Homo sapiens: one gene and its partners. Each later gene encodes a partner of the first gene's protein in a complex. Each region holds a gene or a part of one and is shown in the gene's direction. Other genes may lie near its edges.

Evidence for each region.
Region 2: SNIP1 (region 1) and SNW1 share a complex: the UniProt entries of both Homo sapiens proteins name them as parts of the SNARP complex.
Region 3: SNIP1 (region 1) and CWC27 share a complex: the UniProt entries of both Homo sapiens proteins name them as parts of the minor spliceosome.
Region 4: SNIP1 (region 1) and PPIL2 share a complex: the UniProt entries of both Homo sapiens proteins name them as parts of the minor spliceosome.

Annotation. Positions count from the first base shown.
Region 1 is NC_000001.11:37,550,852-37,559,134, reverse strand, and holds the start of SNIP1 (smad nuclear-interacting protein 1), read left to right. Parts: upstream 1-4,841; 5' UTR 4,842-4,905; coding exon 4,906-5,129; intron 5,130-6,387; coding exon 6,388-6,490; intron 6,491-8,283. Other genes in the region: DNALI1 (axonemal dynein light intermediate polypeptide 1), read right to left, coding at 1,387-1,532, 2,060-2,140. UniProt on the Homo sapiens protein: Required for pre-mRNA splicing as component of the spliceosome. As a component of the minor spliceosome, involved in the splicing of U12-type introns in pre-mRNAs. Down-regulates NF-kappa-B signaling by competing with RELA for CREBBP/EP300 binding.
Region 2 is NC_000014.9:77,729,572-77,737,400, reverse strand, and holds part of SNW1 (SNW domain-containing protein 1), read left to right. Parts: intron 1-325; coding exon 326-430; intron 431-1,394; coding exon 1,395-1,464; intron 1,465-2,388; coding exon 2,389-2,454; intron 2,455-4,799; coding exon 4,800-4,916; intron 4,917-6,271; coding exon 6,272-6,413; intron 6,414-7,829. UniProt on the Homo sapiens protein: Involved in pre-mRNA splicing as component of the spliceosome. As a component of the minor spliceosome, involved in the splicing of U12-type introns in pre-mRNAs.
Region 3 is NC_000005.10:64,799,546-64,807,374, forward strand, and holds part of CWC27 (spliceosome-associated protein CWC27 homolog), read left to right. Parts: intron 1-702; coding exon 703-782; intron 783-1,756; coding exon 1,757-1,787; intron 1,788-4,683; coding exon 4,684-4,841; intron 4,842-7,829. UniProt on the Homo sapiens protein: As part of the spliceosome, plays a role in pre-mRNA splicing. Probable inactive PPIase with no peptidyl-prolyl cis-trans isomerase activity. As a component of the minor spliceosome, involved in the splicing of U12-type introns in pre-mRNAs.
Region 4 is NC_000022.11:21,689,629-21,697,457, forward strand, and holds part of PPIL2 (RING-type E3 ubiquitin-protein ligase PPIL2), read left to right. Parts: intron 1-1,756; coding exon of another isoform or gene 1,757-1,865; exon of another isoform or gene 1,866-2,550; intron 2,551-4,187; coding exon 4,188-4,244; intron 4,245-4,964; coding exon 4,965-5,037; intron 5,038-5,126; coding exon 5,127-5,189; intron 5,190-5,308; coding exon 5,309-5,442; intron 5,443-5,765; coding exon 5,766-5,862; coding exon of another isoform or gene 5,863-5,968; 3' UTR 5,969-6,238; coding exon of another isoform or gene 6,239-6,524; 3' UTR 6,525-7,256; coding exon of another isoform or gene 7,257-7,411; 3' UTR 7,412-7,829. UniProt on the Homo sapiens protein: Has a ubiquitin-protein ligase activity acting as an E3 ubiquitin protein ligase or as an ubiquitin-ubiquitin ligase promoting elongation of ubiquitin chains on substrates.

The DNA of each region.
Region 1 (8,283 bases):
TGGGAATGGGTAGGTGGTAGACAATTTCCACCTTGGCAACGGGCCTCTGTGAAATCATTCCCCACTGTTCCAGATCTTACCCTCCTAACATGCTGAAGACCGATTTATGGTTGTTGCTTGATGTGAACAGTAGGAACTACCCACCAACTTACGGGGTGGGAAACACAGGACATCATGAACCTTGTGCGAGCCAGAAAGAGGCAGATGTGTGTATCGGGGTGGAGAGGTTCATGAAGGTGTGTGCCTGCGTAGGCCCCCATTTCCCTTTTCCTCATAGCCTTACCAACTGTGCTGTCAACTTATTACATAAAAATAGATGAAAAGGCATGTCCTTTTATCAATGTGGCTGCAGAAGAAAAAAGCAAGAAAAGGAGATCATGTTGGGCAGGGGTGCTCTGCTATAGCAAATTCTCAAGGAAGGCCTGGAAGAAATGAAAGGAACCAGGAGAATATCAAGGGGAGAACATCTTTGGCAGTGAAAACACCAGCTGTCAGGGCCCTGTGGTAGGAGAGTGAATGAGGCATTTCAGAAATAGCAAGTGAGGTCCCTGTGGATTCAGCACAGTGAACAAGAAACAGAATAACAGGAGATAAGGTCAGGGATACATCGTAGGCCAGATCATGCCACATCTTCCAGGCCATTGTAAGGATTTTTGATTTTAGTCTGAGATGGGAAGCCACAAAAGAGTTTCTGGCAGAGACTGGCATGATCTGACTTATGACTTAGGGGCTGTATGGAGGATAGATTCTAGGAGCAGAGTGGAAGCAGTGTTTTCAGATAGGAGGCCACTGCAGCAGTGCGAGTGGCCACCAGTGACTAGGAGCAAGATGGTGGAAGCAGAGGTGGTGAAAAGTGGTTGGATTTGGGAAAGAATTTGAAGGTGGAGCCAAAAGAATGTGACGAAGGATAGGACACATGCTGTGAGAGTGATCAAAAGGAATGAAAGGTGGTTTGAGTCCCTAGTAAAAAGGAGAATACGGGGGATGAGCAGATTGGGGAAGGAAGAAATTGTGATTTAGTTTGAATATATTGAGTTTGAGATGTCTATTAGATATCTTCATGAAGATAATGAGGAAGCAGAAGACTATATGGTCCTGGAGTTTAGTGGAGAAGACAGGGCTGGAAATACACATTTGGGAGCCATCAGCACATAGGTGGTATCTAAAGCCATGAGATTGGGTGACAGCATGCAGGAAATGAGGGTAGATTGAGAAGAGGTCTCCCACCACCCTGCCAGGATCCAGCCATATGTAAGTTCTAGGAGCTCTGTGATACTGGGAGGAAACCCCAGCCAGGAACAGAGGCAGAGTGCCTCCCCCCACACTCCCAAAATCCACGATGTAAAAGCTTAGGCCTTCTCCCAGCCACTGCTCCTACTTTCTTACCTTGGGGGTAGTATGGCATTCAAGATTTCTTCTGCCTGCTTTGTAGGATCTGGGACACAGGGAGTTGAGGGGAGCTTGGTCTTGGGTGGCTGTGGGGCTGAACCTGAAGGTCCAGGCTGCTGGGGGCTGACTTTCAGTAGCCGAGCCTGAGATGAAGGCACAGGTGAGGGCAGGAAATTGTTCAGGAGCTCAGCTCCACACATCCCCAACCTGTATATTGCTCCAGGTCTTCTGCACAGCCCTCCCCTCTTCCTAGCCTACTTTGGGTCGGTCTTCTCAGCAGAAATTATGTCACAGAGCTGAAGGAGGCCATGAAGTCTGGCCCCAACTCAATGCTTGAACAGGTGTTTCTGGCGCATGTGCTTTCACACCTCTGGTGATGGGGAAATCACTACCTAGTCATCTGTTCTTGGACCCGCGTACCATTAAGAAGAGTGAGCCCCATCCATCTCCCTGTGACCTCCTTCCCCATCCTAAATCTGCCCTCTGGGGTCACACCCAACATCTGGGCTTCCTATACAATCCTCTCACCCTCCTTCTCTGACTTCCCAATTCCCTTTACTCCCAGTCGCTGCAATCCCCGTCCCTTGAGATTCCTGACCCTCCATGCGGGAATGTGTCTTTCCCTATCGGAGTTTCGAGGCTCCTTTGTCTCCCGAGCCCCCGTCTTTACCTTGGGGCTCCGTTTCTCCGTGTTCCGGCTCACCAGCACTGGGGTGTCGTACTTGAGCAAAGAGTCTGCGGGCGGAATCATGGCGGAGGCGAGAGTAGCAACCCAGCAGCTGCCCTGTCCAGTGTGGGCCTTGTTTGCCGTCACCATGGAAACCGCCCCCTCACTCCCGCCCCCGCGCTTCTTGGCCTGGGCGGAGCTTCGAAGTGGGGCGGGGCCAACAGCCGGCAAGTTTCATTCTGTGCCTCCTGGGCAGAAACCTCTTGTGCCTGACTTCTTAGGCCTTCTGCTCACCGGTTCGTCCCTGTACTCTTGGAGGCGAGGAAAACGGCAGTTCGAGTCCCTATGCTCCGTCTAGCTAGCGATTTGAAGTGGGCAGATCACCTTTGCCATGCTCCAATTTTGTCACCTGAAAAACAGGAGTCATCTCCTGACTTCTCATGAAGGGTTAAGGGACAATTCCCAAAGGAAGTCATCTGGAGTTCCTAGGTTTTTTGAAGGTTTTTTTTGTTGTTGTAGTTGTTCCCAAAATGTGTTCATTGAGATTGTTTCCCACTCATCTTGATTCAGAGTGCTTTTAGTGCTGCTTCCTCCTGAAGGAACATCCTTCTGTAAGCCTTACTTTTCCTCCTGTAGGCTGGCAGAGGACAGTGGAGCAGCCAACACACAAAACTGCCGTTTGTGCATGGCTAAAGACTGTGGTGATTTTATAGCATCCTGGGCATTTCACATCCATGAAGTAGGAATTGGGGCTCTGCACCAGGCGTTTCTTCTTGTGTTTCCTCTTCTCCTCTTCTGGGGAGGGATGAAGGAGATCCTTTGCGAGAGGCATGTTCTCGTGGGTAGGTCGTCACCGCAAGAAAGGGCTTGTTTTGATTTTTAAATTGAGACGGAGTCTCTCTCTGTTGCCCAGGCTGAAGTGCAGTGGCGTGATCTCGGCTCACTGCAACCTCCGCCTCCCGGGTTCAAACGATTCTCCTGCTTCAGCCTTCTGAGTAGCTGGGACTACAGGCGCGTGCCCCCATGCCCGGCTAAATTTTGTATTTTTAGTAGAGACGGGGTTTCACCACGTTGGCCAGGCTGGTCTCGAACTCCTGACCTCGTGGTCCGCCTGCCTCGGCCTCCCAAAGTGCTGGGATTACAGGCGTGAGCCACCGCGCCCAGCCTGAAGTATTTTTCTAATTAAATGGAGAAATGACAAAGTAGGAGCCAATGGGAAACCTCCCCTTTGCCCCCTGAAGATTCGCTCAAAAATCAATTCACAAAAGGCAGATTAATTGGAGAAAAGGCATACAAATGTATTTAAAATGTATACACGGGGAGAATCACAGTATGATTACCCACCCCGAAAAGGGTTCAGAAGCTTATATACCCTCCTGGTAAAACAGGTTTGTGAGGGTGGGAGAAGGAGGAATTCTGTTCAGGGATTACTAGGCAGAATGAATGAATAAGGGAACAGAGATAAATTTGTAAATAGTTTTTTGTGTTTTTTTTTTTGTTTTGGTTTGGTTTTTTTGAAGACAGGGTCTCACTCTGTAGCCCTGGCTGGAGTGCAGTGGTGCCATCACGGCTCACTGCAGCCTCCAACTCCTGGGCTCAAGCGATCCTCCTGTCTCTGCTGGGACCACAGGCACGAGCCACTAGCCCCTGCCAAATTTAATTTTTTTGTAGAGACAGTCTTGCTATGTTAGGCAGTTTGGTCTCAAACTCCTGGCTTCAAGCGATTTTCCTGCCTTGGCCTCCCAAAGCGCCGGAATTACAGGCTGCAGCCACCGTGCTCGGCTGTAAATAGCTACTTTTGACAGTATAAGGGTCTCTGGTCAGGTGTGATTACATTCTTGGGTGGAGAAGAAAGAAACAATTATTCCTTTTGGTAGTCTGGATCTTAGGCAGATAAAGACCTGTGCTTTGGGAGAGATGATGGGCACTGGAAAGGAACATTGAGGCTTCTTCAGTTCAGCTTGTCAGTGAGCCGTATTTTGGGGTTTTGGTTTCTGAGCCCCAACAGCATTGCAGAAAGTTCAGGAAATAGAAGAGGAAAAGCTAATGATTTGAAAAGCTAATGATTTGCCCATGGGTTATCATCTCTGATTGCATTTCCATTTCTTCCTCCCTTCTATTTCCAAATGTAAATGTAATTATAGTTTGCACACAATTTTGTATCCTGCTTTATCGTTAACAAGTCAGGGTTTTTAAAGTTTGTAAATGGTTTACTAATGGCCACATAACACCCATTAATTTGGCTAACTTCCCTACTGCTGGTATTTACATTGTTTCCACGTTTTGTAATTACTAATAATGTGGCAACAAACAGCCTTGAGAGGTTTGCTTTTTCCCAGTTTTTGTTGTTGTTTGTTTTTGAGACATCTCGCTCTGTTGCCCAGGCTGGAGTGCAGTGGTGAGATCCCTGCTCACTGCAACCTGCGCCTCCAGTTCAAGTGATTCATTTGCCTCAGCCTCCCGAGTAACTGGGATTGCAGGTGCGCGCCACCACACCCGGCTAATTTTTGTATTTTTAGTAGAGACGGGGTTTTGCCATGTTGGCCAGGCTGTTCTCTAACTCCTGACCTCAGTGATCCGTCAGCCTCGGCCTCCCAAAGTTCTGGGATTACAGGCGTGAGCCACCACTCCCAGCCAGAAGTTTGTTTTTGAAACTTGAAACTCCCGCCACCCAAGCCTGTCGCTGCGGCCACACCCACTAGGGAGTAGTCACGTGTTTAACCTTTGCCGCGAGGATTTCTGGGAGCCTGGGCACCCCGGAAGCGGAAGTCCAGGAGTTAAACTCGTCATTTCCTCCAGCTAGAGGAGCTCAACTGATCTGTTTTCTTTCGCCCAGCCAAAATCACAGAATGAAGGCGGTGAAGAGCGAACGGGAGCGAGGGAGCCGGCGAAGACACCGGGACGGGGACGTGGTGCTGCCGGCGGGGGTGGTGGTGAAGCAGGAGCGTCTCAGCCCAGAAGTCGCACCTCCCGCCCACCGCCGTCCGGACCACTCCGGTGGTAGCCCGTCTCCGCCGACCAGCGAGCCGGCCCGCTCGGGCCACCGCGGGAACCGAGCCCGAGGAGTTAGCCGGTAAGTGGGGGAGCAGTCCAGGATGGACATTGGGTTGGGCTCATTCAGAAAGGCGGGCAGGGCTAGCGTCCGAAACAGGTTTTGAATGGTGGGCGCAGCAGCCCGGACTTAATCCTGAGGGGCTGTTGAGAGTGATCCAGTCGTGCTTGTGTTATGCTTGCTCTGTCACTTGCATTATAGCTCGGTGTTCAACGCCTAATGACTAACCGGCAGGATCCCACTCCTTCATTCTTGTGTTCCTAGCACTTCGAAGAGTGTGGCCCAACAGATAGCACTGATAATCTGTTAAATTGGATTGAGATTTTCCCCATCCCTCCCACAAATGGAGTGTGGGCGTTGTCTTTCCGGTTACCTGCCAGAAAGGTTTTCACATCGAGGTCTAAGCGAGCTACCTAACAGAAACTGGGGAAAAAAAAAAAGTTACTTCTTGCTAGACTCATTTATTTATGCATTCATTCACCATAGTTTTACTGAGTGCCTATTAAGTGTTAAAGACTGCCCTAGGTATTGGGGCTGCAAGGGTGATTCAGTTAGATGATCTTCACCGATGCCAAATTGGCTATGCTCTAACCCTGAGACATGATAAAAAAATAAACAAAATAGTTTCAGTTAGTAACAAGTATTATTGATAGATTAAAACAGTAATGTGATAGTGAGAGATTGGAGAGAAGAGGGAGGAGGACTCTCTAAAGAGGTGCCATTTGAGCCCAGACCTGACTGATAAGAATGATCCAACCTCTTAAAGATCCAGGCAGAGGAAACAACATCTGCAAAGAACCTGAAGTAGAATGAATTATGATTGAAATGGGAAAAAGCCAGTGTCGGTGGATTATAGTGGTCAAGAAGGTGGGTGGTAGGAATGAGATGGCACAGGGAGGAAGTAGAACCACAGGATGGAGGGATTGTTATTGATGGTAGGGGTGTTGGTAGTGAAGGATAAAGAGTCAAGGGTGACTTACGGATGGTGATGCCAATCAGCGAGATGGCAAGGAGTAGGAGAGGAAAGGTTTTTGAAGGGTTGGGAATTAAGAGTTATGTTACCTAAGTGAGAAGGTTCAGTAGACAGTTGTCTATGTGAGTATGGAATGCAAGGGAGATGTTAGGGCTAGGAAAGTGAACCTCGTGACTCCTTTAATGTGACCGGCAGAGACCTTCACAAATGCGGTGTTTGTGTTAGTAGGTAAGCCTGATACTGGAAGCTAATTTTTATGGGGGAAGGGAAATTGCGATAAAATCCTGTGTACCATGCTCTGAATAGGTCCCCACCCAAAAAGAAAAACAAGGCCTCAGGGAGAAGAAGCAAGTCTCCTCGCAGTAAGAGAAACCGAAGTCCTCACCACTCAACAGTCAAAGTGAAGCAGGTAAGTGGATTGGGGTGTTTTGATGGGTCCAAATTGAGAGCCTTTTCCTATCACAGCTAAAGAGGAATGTGTGTGTGTGTTGTGTGTGTGCACACATGTGCACGTACGCTCGCCTACATCTCTACTTGTACCTCCGATGGGCTTTTCTGAAAACTGGCTGTATTTATTTTTTCTGCTTGTTTGCTTAAATTAAACTTTTTATTTTGAGATTATTATTGGTTCACATGCAGTTGTCAGAAATAATTCAGGGAGATATACTCTTCCTGGTTTCTCCCAGTGGTAACATCTATTCATAACAGAACTGTGGTACAATATCATCATCAGAATATTGACATCGATATAGTCAAGATAACATTTCCTTCACCGCAAGGAATACCTCGTGTTGTCCTTTTGTAGCCAAACCCACTTATCTCCCACTTTTATCCTTCCTTAACTTCTGTCAACTTCTAATCTGTTCTTCATTTCTATAATTTTGTCATTTCAAGAATGTTATGTAAATGGAATCATACAGTATGTAACCTTTAGGATTGTCTTTTCTCACTCAGCAGAATCCTTTGGAGATTGATTCAGGTTGCATCTCTCAGTAGTTTGTTCCATTTCATTGCTGAGTGGTATCCAAATGGCATGGATTTAGCCACTTACTCATTAAAGAACATCTGGGTTGTTTCCATTTTTTGGCTATTACACATAAAGCTGCTATATAGACATTTGTGTACAGGTTTTTATGTGAACGTTAAGAGTTCATTTCTCTGGGATAAATGCTCAGGAGTACAATTGCTGGATTGTACGGTAGTTGCAGGTTTAATTCTTTTAAGAAATTGCCAGACTGTTTTCCAGAGTGGCTGTATTAGTTTACCTAGGGCCACCATAATGAAATACCATAGAGTAGGTGGCTTAAACAACAGAAATTCATTTTCTTGTAGTTATGGGGCTAAAAGTCAAAAATTAGGGTGTTAGCAGGTTTGGAATCTCCTGAAAAAAAATCCTCTGTCCTTGGATTGCAGATGGCTACCTCTTTGCTATATCCTCAAATGATCTTTCTTCTGTCCTGTTGTCTTTTCTCAGCCATATTGGATTAGGGCCCTACCCTCATTTTAACTTAACCAGCTCTTTAAAGACCTCATCTCCAAAAAGTTATTAATACATTCTGAGGTACTTGGGTTTGGTACTTTAACATGCTAATTTTGGAGGGTACAATTTAGTCCGTAATAGTGGCTGTATCATTTTATATTCCCACCAGCAATGTATGAATGATCCGGTTTCCCTGTATCTTTATCAGCATTTCAAGTTATCACTTTATTTTAGCCATTCTGATAGGCGTGTAGTGGTATTTCATTGTGATTTTAATTTGCGTTTTCCTTTTTTTTTTTTTTTTGAGACAGAGTCTGGCTCTGTCACCCAGGCTGGAGTGCAGTGGCACGATCTCGGCTCACTGCGACCTCCGCCTTCTGAGTTCAAACGATTCTCCTGCCTCAGCTTCCCGTAATTTGCATTTTCCTAATGGCTTATGATATTGGACATCTTTTCTTTGTGTGTCAGTGTGTGTGTGTGTGTGTGTGTGTGTGTGTGTCACCCAGGCTGGAGTGCAATGGCGTGATCTTGGCTCACTGCAATCTCCCCTTCCCAGGTTCAAGTGATTCTCCTGCCTCAGCCTCCTGAGTAGCTGGGATTACAGATGCCCACCACCACGCCCAGCTAATTTTTTGTATTTTTAGTACAGAAAGGGTTTCACTATGTTGGCCAGGCTGGTCTCAAACTTCTGACCTCGTGATCTGCCTGCCTCGGCCTCCCGA
Region 2 (7,829 bases), on another chromosome or scaffold:
CCTCAGATGCAGGCATACTAAATAGGTACTATTTTCTAGACTGCTTATCTGTGAAACTGAACACGGCACCTTCCATGTTGGAAAACATATGAGGATGGGTTATTTGCAAACTAATACCACTCAAGTTTATATTTTGACTGTAACTCATAATTTATGTTCTTTTATCCCTCTTGCTGTCTGCTTTGTCTAAATATTTTGTTAATTTTCTGTTAATACTTTGCGAAAGGAATTGAAAATGTAGTCTAGCTTAAGATTGTAATAGAAGGAAAATACCTACTGAAAGCTTGAACTAATTACACCTTTAGTTTTTATCTGCTTTCTTCAGATACACACCATCTCAGCAAGGAGTGGCATTCAACTCTGGAGCTAAACAGAGGGTTATTCGGATGGTAGAAATGCAGAAAGATCCAATGGAGCCTCCAAGGTTCAAGTAAGTGAAAAGGAATAGGCTACTAATACACACAATAACATGGATGAATCTCAAAACAATATGCTGAGTGAAAGAAGCCAGGCAAAAACAAGTACATACAGTATGATTCCATTTATCTAAAACTCCAGGAAATGCAAACTAACCTATAGTTACAGAAAGTAGATAGGTGGTTGCCTCTGGGGAAGGAGGTAGGGACAGAGAGGAGATGGGAGGGACAAGAGGAATAGGCAAGGGGCAAGCAGAAACTTTTGGGGATGATAGACATGTTCACTATCTTGCTTGTGATGATGATTTCACAGGTGCATATTTGTGTCAAAATTTAATCAAATCGTATGCTTTAAATATGTATAGCTAATAAATGTCAATTATCTCAATAAAGCTGCCTTTTTTTGTTTTTGTTTTTGTTTTTGTTTTTGTTTTTTGAGAGACAGTCTCGCTCTGTCACCCAGGCTGGAGTGCAGTGGCATGATCTCAGCTCACTGCAACCTCTGCCTCCTGGGTTCAAGCGATTCTCTTGTCTCAGCCTCCTGAGTAGCTGGGTTTACAGGCGTGTACCACAATGCCCAGCTAAGTTTTTGTATTTTTAGTAGAGACAGGGTTTCACCATGTTAGCCAGGATGGTCTCGATCTCCTGACGTCAGGCGATCTGCCCACCTTGGCCTCCCAAAGTGCTGGGATTACAGGCATGAGCCACTGCACCCGACCTAAAGCTGCTTTTTAAAGTGGAAAAAAGTATATTACTCTGCAAAATGACAATAATGTTGTGGAGGTGGGGTGAGTAACAGTTTCAAAGTTGGCCATGTTTTATTCATTGTCAAAGTGGAGTGGTAAATGTATATCATTATACAGTCTCTGTTTTTGTCTATGTTTGAAACTTTTATGCAAGAAAAAGGAGGAGAGACTTGATATGATGACTAAAAGGGAGGAAACTATATCACTCTCTGGTTGTGTTTTTATACTTCAGGATTAATAAGAAAATTCCCCGGGGACCACCTTCTCCTCCTGCGCCTGTCATGCATTCTCCTAGCCGAAAGGTATTCTTTGCTGTAGTCCAAAATATTTTTTTCTACTCATGGTTATTAATTTTATAGATAACCTCCCTATGCCTATACAGGTGCATGTCACCACACTGACTTGTAGTTTCTTTTTTTATTTTTCAAGATGAAGTTTCAAGAATGCTTATGAGAATGTATATAACATGTTAGCTGTAAGTTTTGTTATTAGTAATGCAAACCCTACTTTTAATGGAATGGACAGGGTCTGCTGTTTCAGTTTAAGGATGTTATAGGAAGTGAATATATGGGTTCATTAGGTCCCTGGTAATTTGACTTTTTAAGATATGTTTTGTTAATCAAAAGAACAATTTTTCATCCAAAAGAAGTCACATCGGCCGGGCGTGGTGGCTCACGCCTGTAATCCCAGCACTTTGGGAGGCCGAGGCGGGCAGATCACCTGAAGTCGGGAGTTCAAGACCGGCCTGACCAACATGGAGAAACCCCGTCTTTACTTTAAAAAAAATTAGCTGGGCATGGTGGCGCATGCCTATAATCCCAGCTACTTGGGAGGCTGAGGCAGGAGAATCACTTGAACCCAGGAGGCGGAGGTTGTGGTGAGCCAAGATTGCACCATTGCACTCCATCCTGGGCAACAAAAGCGAAACCCCGTCTCAATAAAAAAAAGAAAAAAGTCACATCACTTTAAATATGGAAAAATACTAGCCAACATTTATAACTGTCAAGAATAATTTCTAGATTATTTTCCATTTTTCACACTAGTTCAAAGTTATTACTAGAATTATATGGTAAACTAGTGCTAGCAAACAAATGGACTGCTGGCCTTTTACTACGGCTGTGCATATGTCAGTGTATATGGAGCTGTCTTTGAAGATAAAGATTATACTTAGATTTACTTTGTAGACTATAAATCTAAACTTGTCTCTTCTTTCCCTCTTCTCTCAGATGACTGTAAAGGAACAACAAGAGTGGAAGATTCCTCCTTGTATTTCTAACTGGAAAAATGCAAAGGTAATTAAGTTGTCAAATCAGTCTCTATTAGTATAACCTACTGGAAAACACCAGTAAAACAACTACAGCCTGCATAACTGTAGTTGAAACAACACGTGGTTTAACTGAGCATTTTCAAAAAGGAATGCCCAATTTGGTGACTTTTTTAATGTAATAGAAATGTTAGTATGCCAGGCACGTGAATACCGTGTCAGTTCCTTTTTTTTTTTTGAGACGGAGTCTCGCTCTGTCACTAGGCTGGAGTACGGTGGCATGATCTCAGCTCACTGCAGCCTCCACCTCCCAGGTTGAAGCGATTGCCCTGCCTCAGCCTCCTGAGTAGCTGGGACTACAGGCGCATGCCACCACGTCCGGCTAATTTTTCGTATTTTAGTAGAAACGGGGTTTCACCCTGTTGGCCAGGTTGGTCTTGATCTCCCGACCTTGTGATCCGCCGGCCTCGGCCACCCAAAGGGCTTAGATTGCAGGTGTGAGCCACCGCACCCGGCCCCATATCAGTTCTTTTAGTGAATTGTAGCTAGCAGAAGCACATAGAGAAGGAATAAGTAGAATAAAGTGTCATATAAATACAAGATGGTATTTAGAAAACTCAAATTTATATCTAAAAATTATTTCTAAAAGAAAGTAAACTGATGTAAAAGATTATATGACAAAAGAACAGAGTAAATGCTTGGATACTTTAAGTGCTTTAATATTCAACTACTGGGCTCTGTAGTAGTGAAGGCTTAAGCTATATATCTCTAATAATTGCCAAAGTTTCTAGGAGTTGTTAAGAATCTGTAGATTGTGGGATAGATTTGCTAGTTACTGTTTCATCTTCCCTGAATCATAGTTCATGATTTTATTTTTGATGGATAAAGAAGACCATTTCAGGTTTCTTAAGAGAATTTATATACTCACCCTAAACAAAGAGGTTGCCGACTGGTCTGATTTGAGTTGATTGGTATTTTGTAACTGGATGGTATCTTGAGCTGGTTCTATAATGCTTCATTTTATTATGAGACCATGGACTAAAAGTCAACATTTGAGAGACTAGTCAGATATCTGGAAAATAAAGCTAAGCCTGAAAGTTACATAGACATTCAAGTACAGTTCTTGAGTTATTGAAATGGGATGCAAAGTTTTAGAATGTAGAAATTCAGTTGTTTAGCAAACATTTTTTTTTCTTTTTTCTTTGGTTTTTTTTTTTTTTTTTTTTTTTTTTGAGACGGTCTCGCTCTGTTGCCCAGGCTGGAGTACAGTGGTATGATCATGGCTCACTGCAGCCTCAACCTCCCAGGCTCAGGCGATCCTCCCACCTCAGCCTCCCGAGTAGTTGGGACCACAAGTGTGCCCCACCATGCCTGGCTACTTTTTTGTATTTTTGGTAGAGACGGGGTTTCACCATGTTGCCAGGCTGGTCTTGAACTCCTGGGCTCAAGCAATCCACCTGCCTTGGCCTCCCAAAGTGTTGGGATTACAGGCTTGAGCTACTGCACCCAGCCTTTTTTTTCTATTTACTAAAACTTCAGGATTCTAAGAATATAACAGATCATTAAGACAGTACAGCAGATTTAACTTCCTATAGATGCTAAGATTATAGTGATTCTACCTTTGTTTGACTGTTAAATTTACTTGAGGAGCAACTGTTGAACTGTTTGACAGTGATTTCCTTTTATTAAAATCGACAATTATTAACACAAATATCTATTTTTCCAGAGCTTGGGTTCTGAAATCCTGCTGAGTTTAAATCCTAATCGCCCACTTACTAACTGTATGACCTTGGGGATGTTACCAAAGCATCAGTGAAATGGACACAATAATGTTAGAAGCTTTATAGAGTTATCGTGAAGGTTAAATGAGACCATAGGTGTAAGTGCTTGATCTTCTACATAAAGCACTCATTGATAGCTGCTGTTGTTTTGCATCATTGTGAAGAAAGATGCAAGGAAAAAGAACCTCCAGTTAAGTGGTTCTCAAAATGTGGGCATATTTAAATTTAATTTTAGCCAGGCTCGATGGCTCATGCCTGTAATCCCAGCACTTTGGGAGGCCAAGGGCGGATCACTCAAGGTCAGGAATTCAAAACCATCCTGGCCAACATGGTGAAACTCCGTCTCTACTAAAAATAGAAAAACTAGCCGAGTGTGTGGCGCACGCCTATGGTCCCAGCTACTCGGGAGGCTGAGGTAGGAGACTCGCTTGAACCCAGGAGGCAGAGGTTGCAGTGAGCCGAGATGGCACCCCTGCCCTCCAGCCAGGGTGACAGAGCAAGACTCCAGCTCGAAAAAAATAAAATTAATTTAACTTCAGACGATTAATTGAAGCACTTCTGTGACTGGGTTTTCTGTCTGCTTTCACTCTAGGGTTATACAATTCCATTAGACAAACGTCTGGCTGCTGATGGAAGAGGACTACAGACAGTACACATAAATGAAAATTTCGCCAAATTGGCAGAAGCCCTCTACATTGCTGATCGGAAGGTTGGTTTGTTATAATTTGTTTAATGCTCTTGTTACTTTTAAAATCCATTCTTGGTTACCTAAGGTACTGATAATTTAACTATAGTACCGAGCACCCAAAGAGAGTCTCACCCATGGTACGTGTGTCAGAAATGGCAGCTGCTAGTTGGCAGCTCTCTGCATGCTCCCAGCTTTTGTAGATGTGTACATACACCCCACAGTGGTGATCCGGCTCCCTCACAACATGTCAGAATAATGGTTTCCTAGGATGATCCCATTTTTTGAAGATTGCTAGGTTTCATAATTTTTGATTTCAAATTTTCCTCTATTTTAGATGTAGATGTCCCCCAAAAGGGCAGTTGCAGGAAAAGGCAGATAAACATTCTAATGAATTGAATAGTACATAAAATGGCGTTCATAGCATTGGCCATCTATTAATGTTACATAATGTATTAAATATTATGGAATTAGGCTGGGCACAATGGCTCATGTGTATAATCCCAGCATTTTGGGAGGCCAAGACTGGTGGATTCCTTGAGGTTGAGAGTTCAAGACCAGCCTGACCAATGTGGTGAAACTCCATCTCTACTAAAAATACAAACATTAGCTGGATGTGGCATGCACCTGTAATCCTAGCTACTTGGGAGGCTGAGGCAGGAGAATCTCTCGAACCCAGGAGGTGGAGGTTGCAGTGAGCCAAGAACGCACCACTGCACTTCAGCCTGGGCAGCAGAGTAAGACACTTCATCTCAAAAAATATATGTAAATATAAATATTATGGAATTAATATGTGATATTGAAGTTCACATGCATCATAGCATGTGTTTGGAACATAAAAAAAATGTCTTTTGTATCACAGTGAGTACCCTTATAAAAATTATCTAGCAGATGTAAGTTAAGATTTTATCTTGAGTTGACTTGATTAACTTTGAAAGTGTTATTAATTTTGAAAATGTTATTTTTTTGAGATGGATCTCACTATGTTGCCTAGGCTGGTCCCAAGCTCCTGAGCTCAAGCAGTCCTTCCACCCTGGCCTCCCAAAGTGCTAGGATTGCAGGAGAGAGCCACTATGCCTGGCTTTAATTTTGTTCTTTAGATTGTTTCTGAGAAAGCATTAGTGAAATACTTGACTTACAAGATTAATTGGGGTCACGATAGTTTCAATCACTAAAATATTCCCAGAGAAAAAAGCTGACCTTGCAGTGTCTTCCAGGCAGGATATCTTTTAGTGGACAAGACTCTTTGTTTTAATTAGCAATAACAAATCTGAATTCTGTATAATTGCTCTTACCAGCCAGATGTTAGGGAGTTGGATGATAGCCATAAATATTTATCCCATGATAGTGTCCTGTTTAACATGTGACTTTACCAACAGGCTCGTGAAGCTGTGGAAATGCGTGCCCAAGTAGAGAGAAAAATGGCTCAGAAAGAAAAGGAAAAACATGAAGAGAAACTTAGAGAAATGGCCCAGAAAGCCAGGGAGAGAAGAGCTGGGATCAAAACTCATGTGGAAAAAGGTATGACATTCTCATTACTGAATTGAATTTTGCTTGGTGAACAAAATATATCTTATTTTAGAAAATCTTTTTCCTACTGCATATAAAGTAGGTACATATAAACAAAATTTAGATACATCAGATATAGTGTAGAAATGGAGAGTAATCTCTGCCTTAGTAAGCTGAAGCAACAGGAGATAAGAAAAAAGTGGGTCTTCAGTTTGGGACTGTACCAGAAATTTTTAAACTTCTGAGCAGTGTACTTTTCAAAATTGCATTATTACTCAAATGATAGGCTTGATTTTCTCTTATCTTAATCTCAAAACTTAAGAGAAATTAGGTATCTAACAGAATAATTCAGCTCCCTCATATGGTGAAGTAATCCAGAGTTTTTCTATCTTGTAGGCTCCAATGCATTTCTCATCATTAAATCTGCCAGTATTTTCTCTCTGACTTTACTTAGTGGTCTACATTGGTGTATTAATTCAATTAGAGTGGGAAGTCGAGTCCTAAGTATAATTCAAGAAATTTTGTGAGGGTGGTTATTTTTTTTTCATTACTAAATTCTTACCTGGTACATTTATTCATTCTTTCATTTATTTAGTTCATATTGAGCATCTGCTGTGTGCAAGGTTCTCTTTTAGACACAAAGTGTTTTTGCTAGACAGTGGGTAGGGGGATGGGATATAACAGTCAACATTCTGGTGAGTGTAGACAGACAGAAATTAATCATGTAGTATAGTAAAAGGTAATAATTGCTGTGGAGGAAAAATAATACAGGGAAAGAGGATATAAAATTGCCAGAAGGTGAGAGTGGTCAAATAGCCCTCACTTCTGAGATGGTGCTGTTAGCAGAAATACTTGAAGAAAGTAAGGAAGCAAACCATGTGGATTTCTGGGGGAAGAGCATCCCACACAGAAGGGCCAGCAAGTACATGGCTCTGAAATGGGAGTATGCCTAGTGTGGCCCAAGGAAGAGCAGACAGGCCAATATGACTGGATTTGTATGAGAAAGAAGGGGATAAGTAGGAGATGAGGTGTCAGAATAGTTAGGGCAGGTGGGAAGAGTAGTGGCCAGATCATGTATGGCCCTTTAACCTAAAGATAAAGCTTTTACTACAAGTGAAAAGGGAAGCAATTGCAGGGTTTTGAGCAGAGTAATGACCTGACATACTGTTTTCCAGCTTTATTGAGGTACAATTGGCAAATAAAAATTGTATAAAACATACAACATGATGTTTTAATATACACTGTGAAATATTCACTACTGCCAAGCTAATTAACTTACCAGTCATCTCTTATAGTTACTTTTTAAATTTTTTGGTGAGAACACTTAAGATCTACTCTCTTGGCAAATTTCAAATATACAATGCAGTACTGTTAACTATAGTTAACATACAGTATATTAGATCTCCAGAACTTACTCATCCTGCATAA
Region 3 (7,829 bases), on another chromosome or scaffold:
ACTGCACTCCAGCCTGGTGACAGAGTGAGACTCCATCTCAAAATATATATATATATACTTAATAGCAGCAGTAGTTGTTGTTTTATAATGCTACTTCTTAAACCTTTTTATATCTTGTTTCCCTTCTAAAATGTACATTTTTTGAAAACATGAACTTTGAAATTAAAGCATTTAATAAATATTTGGTCACTGATAAATATTCTCATGCTCAAGAGGCTCTTCTATATCTTTTTTTGTTGTTGTTGGTAAGTAGTTCCTCGGGGATGCACTTATCTTTTGCTTGAGTAACATTTTAAAAAGTGATTCTGTGCAGTATAGGTGGCATATTTGAAGAATAATAGCATGCATTTATTTCAATACTCTTGTGATGTAGCTTCTAAGTTATAGGGGTCATAAAAATTAACTAGTTTCATAGTATGCAAATTATTATGAGAATTTAGTGCTTCAAGTTGGTAATTCAACAGACTTCTTTTAAATGATATATCATTTTTTGAAAGAAAAGGTGTTTCTAAAATACTATTTTCAGTCAATAGAAGAGTAAGATTCTTACTTATAAAACTTTAGTTTGTATTAAACTTTTCAGGAATACATCTTTTGCTAACCATATTATATCATTGCTAGGTTTTATGTAAATTTGTTAACTTGTTATTTAGGAATACTGTTTATTTCCCCCCTCATGATTATATTGTACATTCTTTGCAGAGCATGAAGGGCAAAAGCAAAAGTAGTCATGACTTGCTTAAGGATGATCCACATCTCAGTTCTGTTCCAGTTGTAGAAAGGTTAGTCCATTGTTGGTATGATCCTAAGTTCTTAATTTTCTGGCTCAGATAATTTTCTTGCTTCTTCTGTGAGTAAACAGTCAGTCCTCATAAGTCAAAAATTTTTAAGCCAGCCAAAAAAATAAAGCATTTTGATAACAGAGATAGAGAACTTCAAGCTTGATAGAGAGAAACAAACGCTCTAGTCACTTTCGCACTTGCTCTCTACCTCTGTTGAATGAATTACATTTAAAATTGTTTTACCATTACATGTTAGGACTAGAAACTGTTTGCTTTAACAGTGTAATGCTTAATTCAAGGTTGTTTTGCTACCTTTTCCTTGAAGCATTTTTGCCTTAATTGTATCATGAATGAACAAATTACAGTTAAAGGTTTTTGTGAAGAAGTTACCAGTTTGGGGGCCAGTCCACTGACTATAAATTCTCACATACTTTGAGGAGTTAACAGAAAGTTGTCTTGCTACCTTTGTTGCTTCTCTTTGAGAAGGGAAAACGTCTTGGTGTTAGATGTAATAGCACAAGATAAACTGGGCCAGTATCTCAAGGGGCACTACAATGCTGTTGTACTCAGTTTAGCTCATTTTCGAAACTCCTGTTTTAAGACAATCTTTTCTTAATACCCTTCTATTTGAAGGATTTGGGGGTTTTTTTAGTCAGAATATTTCAAGCCAATAAAAGAAATTGTTTTTTGCAGACCATTGATCATAAAAATAACACTGTCGGTTGTTGTTTGCTTTTTTCCTTTCAAATTCTAGTGAACGCATATATTTGCTAATGAATCATACTTATTCCACTTATAAAAAATGACTCTAAAGAATGTTTCCATCTGTTCTATAATGCCTTTCTTAAATTCCTATGTTGAAATACATTTTTGGAATGTTATTCCCAGCAAACTATTCTAGATTTTTGGGTTACAAAATAATTGTGTTAGTTTTACCTTGAAACTAAAATTTGTTTTGCTTATTTTTTTTATAGTGAAAAAGGTGATGCACCAGATTTAGTTGATGTAAGTATTTATTTTGGTATTAATATAGTTTGAACAATTCATAGAAAGTACAAAATTTTTACAAAAACTTAATTTTGTTCTTAAAAAGTAACGTATATTACTTTTATAGTTATATATGTCAAATTTTGGAAAAATATGAAAAACAGAAATTATTTAGGTGTTAGACTATTTCCTTACTCTAGGGGTGTGCGTGTGTGTGTGTGTATATCTCTCTACAACATTAGAATCTTATATATGAATTTCTAGTCTGTTTTTTTCTCCCCCTCACATAACATTACGTTAATACTCAAACTTCAGATGTTATAAATTTATTGTATTAAAAGTTTAAATATTGGTGTGTGGGCATCCTACATGATATATGGGAAATGCTTGGATCAGTAATTTATAGTAGTGTCTCCTTTTTATATACACATTTCAAAAGATTCTCATTCAAGAGTGTAGTGATCTTTATTAGTTGTAGTGGCTAACAAAGCTAACAAAACAGAAGGAAGATTTTCCTTTAATACATAAGAGTCAAGTTTTTCAAATTATACATATGCCACTTTTTATATAAAAACCCATTAATCTGTGCATTGTATAATTTACTAGGAAGTACATAACTTTCCATGCATGAACACAGATTTATCTATTATCACAGTCAAAAGAGAAGGCTCTCTATGGCTATCAGTAGTAGATAGAGAGAGGATGAATATCTGACCTTGTCAAGAAAAGCTTCCTGGAAGAGATGATGCTATTTATGTCTTATATGAGAGTTAGGAGTTAGCTAAGTCAGAAAAGAAAGTGATGAAGGGGGTGAGGTCCCTCTAGCTCAGAGAATAGCATATGCTAAAGCATGGAAATAAGGAGAGATCATACCTTATTTAGGAAATACAAACGGAAATTTAAAGTTTCAAGGAGTCTGTCTTGTGAAGAGCAAGGAAGAAGAGTATTGAAGGTAAGGGGAACTGCATATACAAAATGGTCCGAAGCAGGAGAGTTTGGTGTGTTCTAAGAGCTGCAAGCAGGCCAGCGTGAACAGGGTGTGGTGACAGGCCAGAGCTTCATTACAGAGCTTCATAGGCCATGGTGAGGGGTTTGAGTTTTTTCCTAAAAGGAAGTGAGGAACAGTTGAAAGGTGTTTGTTAAAAAGAAGGATGCTATGATCAATTTTGCATTTCAGGAAGATCACTATTGGCGATATTATAGAGGACAAATTAGAGGAAACAGACTGATACTGGGAAGCTATTGTAGGAGGAGAGCTTGATATAAGACCACAGCTGTGAGATGGGAAAGAGGTAGATTTGAAAGAGGTCTAGGAGGTGACTGATTCTACACTATGAGGTGAGGGAGGAGTAGTCCAAGACAACCACAAGGTTTCTGGTTTGAGCAACTTGTTAGATGGGTGCAAAAGAAAGCATAGGGTTGAGGTGGAGAAAAGGATGAAAAATAATGAGCTTAATTTTATACATTTCAAGATTGAGGTAATTTGGAGACATCTGTGTAACATAATATGGGTCTAGAAGTTAGGATCAATGTATAGGATAGAAAGTAAAAGTATAGATTTGCTCTTAATATCATGGGTGAGTGACTAAAACTGTGAATCCTTTCCCAGGAAAATGTACTACATTCACAACCAAAATTATATGAATTTGCAGGGAATTTTTTTTAGATCTCCTGAGGCCTGAGCATGGAAGGCCTAGGTTGGTGGTTGTCACCTTTTAGTGCTTAAGAATTACTTAAACATCTTGTTGAAAACATTCGTAATTCCTACCCCAGAGATTTTGGTTCAATAAGTCTGCAATGAGGGCTAGAATTTTAGGTGTTAATAAACAACTATGTAATACCATCTAAGGACCAGACTTTGAGGACCAGTGCTTTAGGGGTCCACAAGTCTCAAATTAAGAATCCTGCTTCACTACGACTCACCAGATCAAAGAAAGAATCACAAAAGAAAAATGATCCACTTGGGGTTATTTCTTCCTTCTTCTCTCCCCTCTTTCTTCCCTTTGTTCCTCCATCTGTCAATGCTGGGCACTATTCTAGGAGTTGAAGATACAGCAGTAAGCAAAACAGGCCAGAATTTTAGCTCTCATGGAGTGTTTGCTGTAATTGGATGACAGACAATACACATGCAAATAATTAAAATATATGGTGTATCAGATAGGTGATAAGTACTTTGGAAAATAAGCCAGGGAAGATGAAAGAGTACTGGAGGTAAGTGTGTGGTTCTACCATTTTAATAGGTTAATCTCATCACCAAGAGGGTAACATTTGAGCAAAGATCTGAAGGAGATGAAAGAGCAAGCAATGAAGAGATATCTGGAATAGAGTATTTGTTTCAGGCTGGAGAGAACAACAACTCCAAAGTTGGCTAGTGTTGGTGGGCTGGAGTTGTAGGAGATTATGTCAGGGAGGTTTAGATTGCATAGGGCCTTGAGTGAGTTGGGGACCCACTAGAGGGTTTTCACAAGAGAAGTGATTGCTGTGACTTGGATTATAGAAATCTCAGCTTCTGCACTACACCTCTTCTACTTGAATTGATCCCTGTTGAGGTCAGTATGCTGGCCAACTGCCTTCAAAAGCCACATTTCCCACTGAGATAAGAATAGGAATATAGACAGAATAGCCCGAGTGACACAGAGGGAGAAGTCTGCTGCACAAAGGAGCTGGGCATGAGTTGAGCGAACAGCCTTTCCTGGGGTATCCCATAATTACATAGTTGGCTTAGAGCAGAACCCAGGGCTATTCCCACCTGTAGCAGATTCTTCAAGGGCTTATAATTCAAAACAAAAGAAAACAAAATAAAAAAAAAAACCTAGTTTAGAATGCAATAAGGAGATTCAGTGGATGCAATAGATCTCTAGAAATGAAAGGGGAAATTGAGCACCTGGCAAATACTCATTTTCCATTTCTACAGGATGGAGAAGATGAAAGTGCAGAGCATGATGAATATATTGATGGTGATGAAAAGAACCTGATGAGAGAAAGAATTGCCAAAAAATTAAAAAAGGACACAAGTGCGAATGTTAAATCAGCTGGAGAAGGAGAAGTGGAGAAGAAATCAGTCAGCCGCAGGTGAGTCAGTTACTGTGCTAGATATCAGAGTTTTTGTCTTTTTATATTTCACTTTAATTCAGATTGAATCCTCTCTTCAGCTAATTTTTAAAATACTATTTTCATAATGTTTGATAAACATAACAGTTGTACAAATTGGCCCATTAGCAGGCCTAAAATAAAATACACCAAGCTTAAAGTAAACATAACAATGATCCTATGAGTTCAATTCCATTTTATTTCTCTCTGATCCTTTTTTAGAAAGGCTCTATACTTTCATATATATAGGGTAATAATGTATTAGCTAGATGTGGAAGAATGCATTTGTTAAATACCAATGAGAGCAGTAGAGTAATTGTATAGAAAGAAAAGAGACATCCTCAAATAATTTCGGTAAGCAAAATTTGTCAAAACTGATGAAGAAAATGAGTGAGCCTGAAAACATTCTTAAATATCTTTTCAAGTCTGATTTACCAAATACCATATACCTATCCTAAGCTCAGTAGTATCATAAAATAAATTTCAGCAAATGGTGAAAAGTTTACTGTCTGGTGATGAAAGTTTGTTGGATTTATGACTCAACATTTTATTCTCCTGAAATTCAACTTAATTGAAAAATTATCTCTTTTGTGATTCTATTTCAACTTTATAGTATACATTTTAAATAATATTGCTTTAAAAAACAATAGTATTTGTTTTCTTCAAATACTATTTGGGGATAATATGAATGTAACTACATTTAAATAACATTCTTTTTCCCTATCATGTTTCTCAACCACATGTAGAAAAACTTAAAAAGGATTTCCACGCTATCATTGCATAGCTCCCTCAATTTTTTCTTTATGTAATCAAATAAAAATGATTCCCAGAAATTTCCACTAAAAGCATAGCTTTTAACATTTAGAAATGGTACTTAGGAGTCATCTTAAATGTCTTTTTTCCAGCAATATTCACCTGACACTCAAGTAATCACTGTTGAATAATTTTACATACTAGATTATATTATATATACCATACATAGTAGCTAATATAGACTAAAGATTTTAGTGATCATATGCATGCTTCTAGATTCATAGAGTTGAAAAACCTCTCATTCACACTGTAACTTTTAGTTAAATCATGAATATAATTATGGATACATAATGTTTTATTCCTCTCATTCAAGGCATGTGTTTTCTGATTTTAAAAAATTATGAATTTTTTTAAAGGTTAGGTTTATAATGTAACAAAAATATATTTAAAAATTTTAATAGATGAGCCAACCAAATATTTATTTATGTTAGATTTAAGTGTTCCTTAAACTCCCAACTCAGTCTTGTAGGCTTTAATCAATTTCAAATACTTATATACCCTATAATATAAACTATAATTTAGCAATGCTAAATTTTGTATAAGAACTAAAGTTCATTTTTAATGTACCTTTCATAAGTGTCTTTAAAAAATTGTTTACCTAATATTAAGAAAAGTCAAAGTTTGCATTTTCCAAAATTGTGTTCACTCTTACAATTAAGGGTTATTCTTAAAAGATTTCCTTGGCTGTAGTATGGGCCTGATGACCAAACATGGCATTGATAGCTAGATTTAGGAATCTGATCTATCATGAGAATACTGGAGAGCCACTGAAGTTTTTACAGGCAAATGATATATTGAGATTGTATTTAGTATGGAGAATGGATTGATAGAGGAGTGTTTTGGGCTATTATACAAAATACCATAGACTGGATGACTTAACAGACATTTAAAGCTTAGTTTTTATGGTAATTTCTTACATAGGAACATATATATCCACTTACTTATGTAAACAATTTTTCTCTTTTTATAAATCAGTATAATTTGCAAAATTAAAATCACATAATTTGTATATTCACTGTAGAGGAAAAAGTTATATTCAAGTGCATTGCAAGTCTACTAAGAAAATTAAATAAATTTAAAAAGTACGTTAAATACTTTTCTACTTAGAAAAGTAAATTAAATAAGAAGTCTCCAAAGGTGGCTTGAATATTTTAGGTAAACATGAGTATTGTGGACATTGTTGGATTCTTTTAGGTAAAATAATTGGCAAAGTGTGCCTTTGTAAATGGTGCAGACAGCACACATTTATTTATAACTGTTCTGTTCCCCCACATTTTCATTATTCACATTCTCTACTCTCCCTCCTTCATCCTATCTGTCCTACCTACAAAGAGAAACAAAAGAAAAATAAGGTCAGGATAGAGGAGAAAGTACAGAATTTCAAAAGGAAGAAACAGTTTTTTCCTCTAGTGTAGAAATTTCCATGATTGTCTCATGACCACGTATTTTTTTCAGTTCATAAAGTTGCCAAAATCAGACCCTGGCATGGTGGCTCATGCCTGTAATCCCAGCTGCTCAGCAGGCTGAGGTGGGAGGATTGCTTGAGCCTAGGAGCTCTAGGCTGCAGTGAGCTATGATCCTGTATGGGCAACAGAGCAAGACCCTGTCTCTAAAAAAATAAAAATAAATTTTAATAAATTTCCAAATCATTAGTACTTTTGGTTATTTATACCAGCGAGTCTCTGAAGTTAACTTTATGGTTAAAAAATAAAACAACACAGGAAAGCTCCAAATGTACTGAAAAACTACAACGTGGTAAAAGGGATAATTATATTTAAAGGAAAGTCACTGCTCAGTTTGAGTTATAATGGGTATAGCTGCCAGCCAGATAGGATGTCAGTGTGATATCATTATCTATTCAAAAATGTGTACTCTTGATACATGAGTTTTCATCAGGGTGTGCTTGAAGTACTCTATTATCCTTTGGTCATTCTTCCATTTAAGCAGTAGGATCAGAAACTAGACTAGCCCACCAGCCCTTTAAGCAATGAGCCGTTCAAAGTATAATTTTACTGAAAACGTGTGGTATTGCTTCTATTGGTAAGGAAACATCTGGAATCTGTTAAAGCTGGTTATCACTTTTGGATGTTAAACCTACACATGTATTTATTGAGTGCTTAATATTTAAACTGGGGAATGATATTTAACAGAATAATT
Region 4 (7,829 bases), on another chromosome or scaffold:
CAAAAGCTGGTCTGCTCTCTGCTTCCCTGGTGTGCACATCAGTCACGTCACCGTCACGTCACCGTGGGCCTGATGGGGGAGGAGGATGTGGGCATCTTGCTGTGCTCCACAGAAATCGCTGTTTTGCCTTCTCAGAACATTTGTTGTTGGGCTGTTTTTAGGAGGGTGGCTGACTTTTTAGAGGTTTCTTTGTTAGCATCTACTATGATGATTCTGTCCTTTTTCTGGTCCTCCCGGGATTTGTGGATGTGGCCACTACAAGGCCAGAGTGGATGGGTGTCTCCGTGGCATTCTGGGGTGAACCCTGGCCTGTCGTGGCTTCGCCGTGGCCTTCTGCCAGCTCACTGTCACACGTGGTCTCGGTTGTGTGGACTGGCTCCAGCAGGTTTTGCTGTGACAGGTGTGGCCCCTGCATGTTACGAGCAGGGCTGGCTGTGGCTTTGTGGCCTGGAATGGTTAAAATCACAGGGATGGCCAGGCGTGGTGGCTCACACCTGTAATCCCAGCACTTTGGGAGGCTGAGGTAGGTGGATTGCCTGAGCCCAGGAATTCGAGAGCAGCCTGGGCAACATGGCAAAACCCGATCTCTACAAAAAATAAAAAAAATTAGCGGGGCATGGTGGCGTGCGCCTGTAGTCCCAGCTGCTTGGGAGGGTGAGGTGGGGGGATAATCTGAGCCTGGGAAGTCAAAGCTGCAGTGAGCTAGGATCGCGCCACTGCACTCTATCCTGGGCAGCAGTGAGACCCTGTCTGGAAAAAAAAAAAAAAATCAAACGAGTCAGCTGTGCTTAACAGCTGGGCAAAGGCAGCTGGCAGCTATTCGTGCCACTTCCTTGGGGCTTTCATTTCAGGGTTAACGGGCACTTGTTTCCATGAAGGCTGGTATTCTCTTGGCCTCGCTGTGCTGACCTTTTTTTCTCATGCCTAATCACACTTTCCATTCCTCAGTCCCTTAGTGGTCTTTGAAGGGTTTGTCTGTTTTCACTTCACTTTGAAGGGTTTGTAATTGTTTTCAGTTTCTGTCTTTGCTTCTTCATGGTGCTTTTCCTCCTTCCTCACTTTAATCCATGTGTGTTTCTGATAGCCACGTCTGTCATTTTGAGGGTGCATGTTCCCTCTTCACTGCTTGCTGGTTGTTGGTAGCTTCCCTTTCAATTTCTTCTCAGCCAAGGATTGCCTAGGACTGTTGGTTATTTTCAAGTAGGTTGGGTGCGTGGTTTGTTTTTGTTGTTTGGCAGGGGCCAGGGCAGGGAATCATTTTATTATTTTTTATTTCTCTTTGGCTTAACCAGCCTGTGAAACTGCTGACAGATCAGTTGCCACCTTCTCTTTTTTTTTTTTTTTTTTTTTTTTGAGATGGAGTTTCACTCTTGTCACCCAGGCCGGAGTGCAATGGCGGGATCTCGGCTCACTGCAACCTCTGCCTCCTGGGTTCAAGCGGTTCTCCTGGGATTACAGACGCCCACCACCACACCAGGATAATTTTTTGTACTTTAGTAGAGACAGGGTTTCACCATGTTGGCCAGGCTGGTCTCCAACTCCTGACCTCAGGTGATCCACCCACCTCAGCCTCCCAAAGTGCCGAGATTACAGGCATGAGCCACCACACTCGGCCTTCTTTTCTTATTTCTAGTAGTATTTTGTGCTTTCTTGGACAACTGTTGCCAAAGGTTTGCCTATTTTACCGTATTCAAAGATCATTAGACTTTAATTTGTTACAGCTTTGTTTTCCCTTTTGTGATTCTTGTAATTAAAGATTTTCCAGGAGGAGGCCAGGCGCGGTGGCTCATGCCTATAATCCCAGCACTTTGGGAGGCCGAGGCAGGCGGATCACGAGGTCAGGAGATCGAGACCATCCTCGCTAACACGGTGAAACCCCATCTCTACTAAAAATACAGAAAACTAGCCGGGCATGGTGGCAGGCGCCTGTAGTCCCAGCTACTCAGGAGGCTGAGGCAGGAGAATGGCGTGAACCCAGGAGGCAGAGCTTGCATTGAGCCGAGATCGCGCCACTGCACTCCAGCCCTCCAGCCTGGGTGACAGAGCGAGACTCCGTCTCCAAAAAAAAAAAAAGATTTTCTAGGAGGAGCTTGCCTCAGGATGGTTCTTTTACTTTCCTCTTATCTGAGTTTAATTCTGCTTCTAGTTTCCTTCACTGTGTTAGAAATCAGCAAGAGAGGGAACTGCTTGCAGGTCAGAGCTCAGGTCTGCACCGTTGCAGATGTCACATCTGCGGACACTTGTCTGGTGGCCTCGGGTGTGGTCAGACTTGGTGGGCTCAGGAGCGTGTCCCTGCGTGGCTGGGGGGTGCATGTTTGATGCAGTGGAGGTTAAGTCCTGTGTCTCACCAGCCGGGTTGTGGGCTGTGCCTGCCTGCACCACCCTGGGGAGTGCTCCGTGCCGCCAGCGCCGGGACCCACCCCATGTCTTCCATCGTTTTCTTTTCAGCCTCTCTGGCTCTGCCCTCTGAGGGCTTTTTGAAGGCTCACAGCTGGGGTCTGTCGTGTTCTCCTTCATCCTGACAGTCTTTTTTTTTTTTTTCTTTGAGACGGAGTCTCGCTCCGTCCCCCAGGCTGGAGTGCAGCGGCGCGATCTCGGCTCACTGCAAGCTCCGCCTCCCAGGTTCATGCCATTCTCCTGCCTCAGCCTCCCTAGTAGCTGGGACTACAGGCGCCCGCCACACGCCTGGCTAATTTTTTGTATTTTTAGTAGAGATGGGGTTTCACCGTGTTAGCGAGGATGGTCTCGATCTCCTGACCTTGTGATCCGCCCACCTTGGCCTCCCAAAGTGCTGGGATTACAGGCGTGAGCCACTGTGCCTGGCCAATCCTGACAATCTTAAATGTGGACTTAATTCTTCAGGTGGTCTGTTGCGTTCTATGATCTTGTTGCTTTCTAGTTACCATTTTTTATATTTATTTTCATTTGCTTCTCTTCTCTTTCTGCTGGTTTGGAAATTAGATGTTTTACTTCTGGTCTAAGGTTAAGAAGGACATCTATTTAAAGTCCAAAGTTGGCCAGGTGCAGTGGCTCACGCCTGTAATCCCAGCACTTTGGGAGGCCAAGGCAGGTGGATCACAAGGTCAAGAGATTGAGACCATCCTGGCTAACACAGTGAAACCCCGTCTCTACTAAAAATGCAAAAAAATTAGCTGGGCGTGATGGCGGGCGCCTGTAGTCCCAGCTACTCAGGAGGCTGAGGCAGGACTATGACATGAACCTGGGAGGCGGAGCTTGCAGTGAACCGACATCGCGCCACTGCACTCCAGCCTGGGGGACAGAGCAAGATTCCATCTCAAAAAAAAAAAAAAAAGTCCAAAGTTATGAGGTAGTCTCTGCCTTCCTCCCAGACCAGGCTGGCAGAAACTCTCTCCTCGTCTCATGGCAGTGCTGTTGGCTGTTTTAATTCCACCCCATTTCCTTTTTTCTTTTTCTTTTTTCTTGAGACAGACTCTGTCGCCCAGGCTGGAGTGCAGTGGTGTGATCTCAGCTTACTGCAACCTCTGCCTCCCAGGTTAAAGCGATTCTCCTGCCTTGGCCTCCTAAGTAGTTGGGACTACAGGCACACGCCACCACGCCCAGCTAATTTTTGTATTTTTAATAGGGACAGGGTTTTACCATGTTGGCCAGGCTGGTCTCCAACTCCTGGCCTCAAGTGATCTACCTGCCTTGGCCTCCCAAAGTGCTGGGATTACAGGCGTGAGCCACTGTGCCTGGACGACCTGAGCATTTTCTTAGTCCATGTTTATTTATGTTACCCACGTTTCTTAATCCCTTGACTCCTGTTCTGGCTTTGTTGCCTCCTTTCTCCTCAGTCCTTCAACAGGTCCCTTGATGACATGGGGCTGGCTCTGGTTTTCCAGGTGTCCCCTCGTCCCAGCCACCTCCCACAGAGCTGCATGGCCAACCTGGTTCTGGGCACAGGGACCACCTGACAGGCAGTGGGCAGCAGCCGGGGCAGCAGGAAGACCTGGGGACAGCTGGAGTTCCGGGGTCCCCTGGGCAGCCTTGGGGGCTAATGACCTGCCCTGGTGGGCAGCGCAGGGAACCACGTGCACACATGCGTCCGTGGAAGCTGCAGGTTCCCAGAGCTGGCTGTAGAGGGTGGGCAGCTCCTGGTGTGCTCTTAGGCAGGCCAGGTGCAGAAGGTGCCATGCTCTCCCTAACCATCCAGCCCTCCTCCCCAGCTTCATCACGTTTCGCTCCTGTGCCTACCTGGACAAGAAGCATACCATCTTTGGACGGTAAGGGAAGCGGCTGTGTGAAGCCTGGGGGGTCAGTGGGCTAGGTGGGTTCCTTCCCCACCTGAGGCCTCCTCACTGCCTTTTTCGTGGACCTGAGTCATGTGCCATGCTGGCCATCACTGCTGGGGGTTGAGGCTATGCAGAGCTGCGATGGAGGGTGCTCCATGTGCCAGGGAAGTCTGGCTCTCTAGACCCACCGGGCTCAGGAGAGGAGGAAACTCGCCCATGTGGCCTGGACACTGCCCTGTCTCAGACCCAGTGGCGCGCCACTCGCAAGCCTGGCCACACCCAGCTCCCTTCACCCTCTAGTCCAGGGGTCTTTCCAGCGTTGTGGGCCACGTGGTCTCTGACGCCCACCCAGCTGTGTGGAAGCAGCACGAAACAGGGTGGACGCAGGTGATGTGGTTCTGGCCAAGTGGAACTCTGTTTACCAAACCAGCGGGGAGAGCACAAGCCACGTTTTGTGACTCCTATTTTTCCTGTGGGTGGGGGAAACCAAAAAAAAAACAAAAACAGAAAAAAACCCAGCTGGATATGCCCAGGGCCATGGTCAGCCGACCCCGCCCTTGCCACTCCCTCTCATCGCCTTCCTGGCTGCTGCCCAAGGACCACCAGGCCAGCCTCGGGGCTCTCAACCCCTCTTCCCACGTGCCTTGGGGCTCAGCCGTGGGGGTGCCCTCCTTGAGCACACGCAGACCCACCTCTGTCTCCCTGCTGCAGGGTTGTTGGGGGCTTTGACGTACTGACAGCCATGGAGAATGTGGAGAGTGACCCCAAAACTGACCGCCCTAAGGTCTGTGCCCAGGGAGGTGGGGCGTGGCGGCTGGGGGCCAGGCAGGCAGGGGGAGGACCTGCCGTGCACTGAGCCCCCTTTGCTGCTAGGAGGAGATCCGCATTGATGCCACTACAGTGTTCGTGGACCCCTATGAGGAGGCCGATGCCCAGGTGAGGGGGCACGATGCCACCACCTAGGAGGGTCTGGGCTAGTGCACTTTTCCACCCCAAGCCTAGCATCTGTCCTGCCCGAGGTGCTGCCGGTTAGCCAGCGCCCTGTTGTGCCACAGATTGCGCAGGAGCGGAAGACACAGCTCAAGGTAGCCCCGGAGACCAAAGTGAAGAGCAGCCAGCCCCAGGCAGGGAGCCAGGGCCCCCAGACCTTCCGCCAGGGCGTGGGCAAGTACATCAACCCAGCAGCCACGTGAGTGCCGCGGGGCTGGCCTCCCTGTTTCCCATGGTGTTTCCTAGGGCTGACTGAGGTCTGAGGGTCAGACCCAGAGGGGCAAGCAAGCTATGGGCACTGGTCCCGGCCGTGGGCTTGTGCTGTGTGGCCTCTGCAGCCGAGGGACTGCCTCTGAAGGCCTGGCCGGGGCCTCTGTGGGTGGAAGAGATCAAATTCAGGGGGATGTGGGAGCAGCAGGTGGGAGGGGTTGGGCCTACACCGGGAGGGCTGTATGGAGACACAGACAAGTCAGGAGGGGCTGAGGGAGGGTGTGGGCTCCCAGCGGCTTCTTCTCTTCCCAGGAAGCGAGCAGCAGAGGAAGAGCCCTCAACCAGTGCCACTGTCCCCATGTCCAAGAAGAAGCCCAGTCGGGGTTTTGGGGACTTCAGCTCCTGGTAGCAGCAGGTTGGCCGCTGTGGACCTTGGTGGGGTTGCAGGGCTGGGGGCCCATGTCCACATCTCCATTTCCAGCCTTTCTAGCCTGCCCTCTGCTGCCAGCCAATAAATTGCTTGCCTGCTGCCTGCATCCCCTTTCCTGGCCCCTGGGAGCCCACAGCCTTCCCATCCCTTAACCTGTTGCCAAGGGCCTTGGCCCTGTTTCCAGGACCTGGCCCAGCCAGAGCCCACTGCTGGGACCTTCAAGCACAAGGCCTGCCCTACACCCAGGCTGGTGCCTCAGGCCTCCCCTCTAGTAGGCAGGCCAGGTTAGTGAGGAAGGACTGTGTCTCCAGATTGTGGTTTCCTCTTTAAGACAGGGTCTTGCTCTGTTGCCCAGGCTCCAGTGCAGTGGTGTGATCATGGCTCACTGCAGCCTCGACCTCCTGGGCTCAAGCAATCCTCCTGCCTCAGCCTCGCAAGTAGCTGGGACTACAGCCGTGCACCACTACATCCAGCTGTATATGTCTGGTTTTCTTACCCCTACTTCTGTCATCTTCTCAGGGACAGCCTATTTATACAACCAGTGTGGTCCCCTGACCAACGCCATTACCTGGGACAAGTTTTCAGACCCCAGACTTACTGAGCCTAAGCCTCTGCAGGGTGGGCTTCTCGGTCTGTTTTGACAAAACTTCAGGGGCTTCTGAAGGCTGGTGTTGGACGGCAGCATTGAGTTTCCTGCCGTGCCCTGCCTGAGCTCTCAGGGCCCTGCTCACCTGCTCTGGCTGTGAACCACCTGGGCTTCATCTCAAGCCTGCCTGGCGTCTCTGTGCCCCTGTGAGAATCTTGAGGGGACCCACACTGGGTTGAGGCCAGTGTCTCCTGCTGTGAGAACAAGTGGATGTCCCTCTCCCCGCCCTCCTGCTGAAGTGGCCTTGCTGCTCTCAGGCCCGGCCACTGGGCTCCAAGACTCTGCTCCTCCTGTCAGTCACTGACTCTGATGGCCTTGGGCCAGCTGCATCAGCAGCCCTTAAAGAAAGACCCCTCCCTCAACCCCCATTTTTCTGTTAAATGTGCCCCTGGCTGGCTTTTTCTTCGTCTTCAGCCCAGGCCAGTGGTCAGTGTTCTCATGTCATGGACTCTCCTTGCCTGACACTTGCCTCTTGGGCTCCCTGTTGCCCTCAGGCCACCCCCCACTTCTAGTTCTTCACACTAAGCCCTAACTTAGGCCTTGTTCTTGGTTTTCTCATTTTTGTTGCCCCAAATCTTGAACCTGTCAGCAACTTGCAGGCTGTACCTCTGCCCTTCCTTTTCTCATCAATCACTGATGCTGAAGCTGCAGGCCTGAGCCCTTTGTCTCCCTGGATGCTGGGTGGCGCCTCATCTGCATCTCTGCCTCACCCCATCCACTGCCACAGGCTGCCTGATGACCACTAGAGGTATGTCTGCCCCTCGTCACCCTGCTGCACACCAATCTGTGGCCCTTCATCATGCTAAGAACAAGAACTGCGCCATGGCTGGCTCCTTCTCTTCTCCAGCCCATCCCTCTGCAGCCTGTCATCCCTGTCTGTGACCATTGGTCGGGCCCCTGGGCTCTAGAGTGACTTTTGACGCCCTCCATCCCTCCCGCCAGGCACTGTCCTCCGCAAGGCCTGGTGCAGCCCTGGCAGTAACTGGCTTGTAAGAGGCTCAGACACCAAGCTGGGCCTGCAGAGGAGGGGCACAGTAGGACACAGTGACTGCCCAGGTGTCCACACACCTGTAGGCCTCTGAGCCAGCGTCCAGGGTACAGGTGCGGGTGGTGGGGATGAAGGCCTGACCAGGGAGGGAGAAGCAGGTTTGGAGAGGACCCTGTGCCCACCCTGACAGACACCCTGGCTGGCCCTGACTGACTGTATTCTCTGGCCACATTCAAGTCCCCCATTGGTGGGGGCAGAGAAGTAGGACCAGGCCATCCTTGGCTCCAGAGCTCGAAGACCCCAAGACAGCCC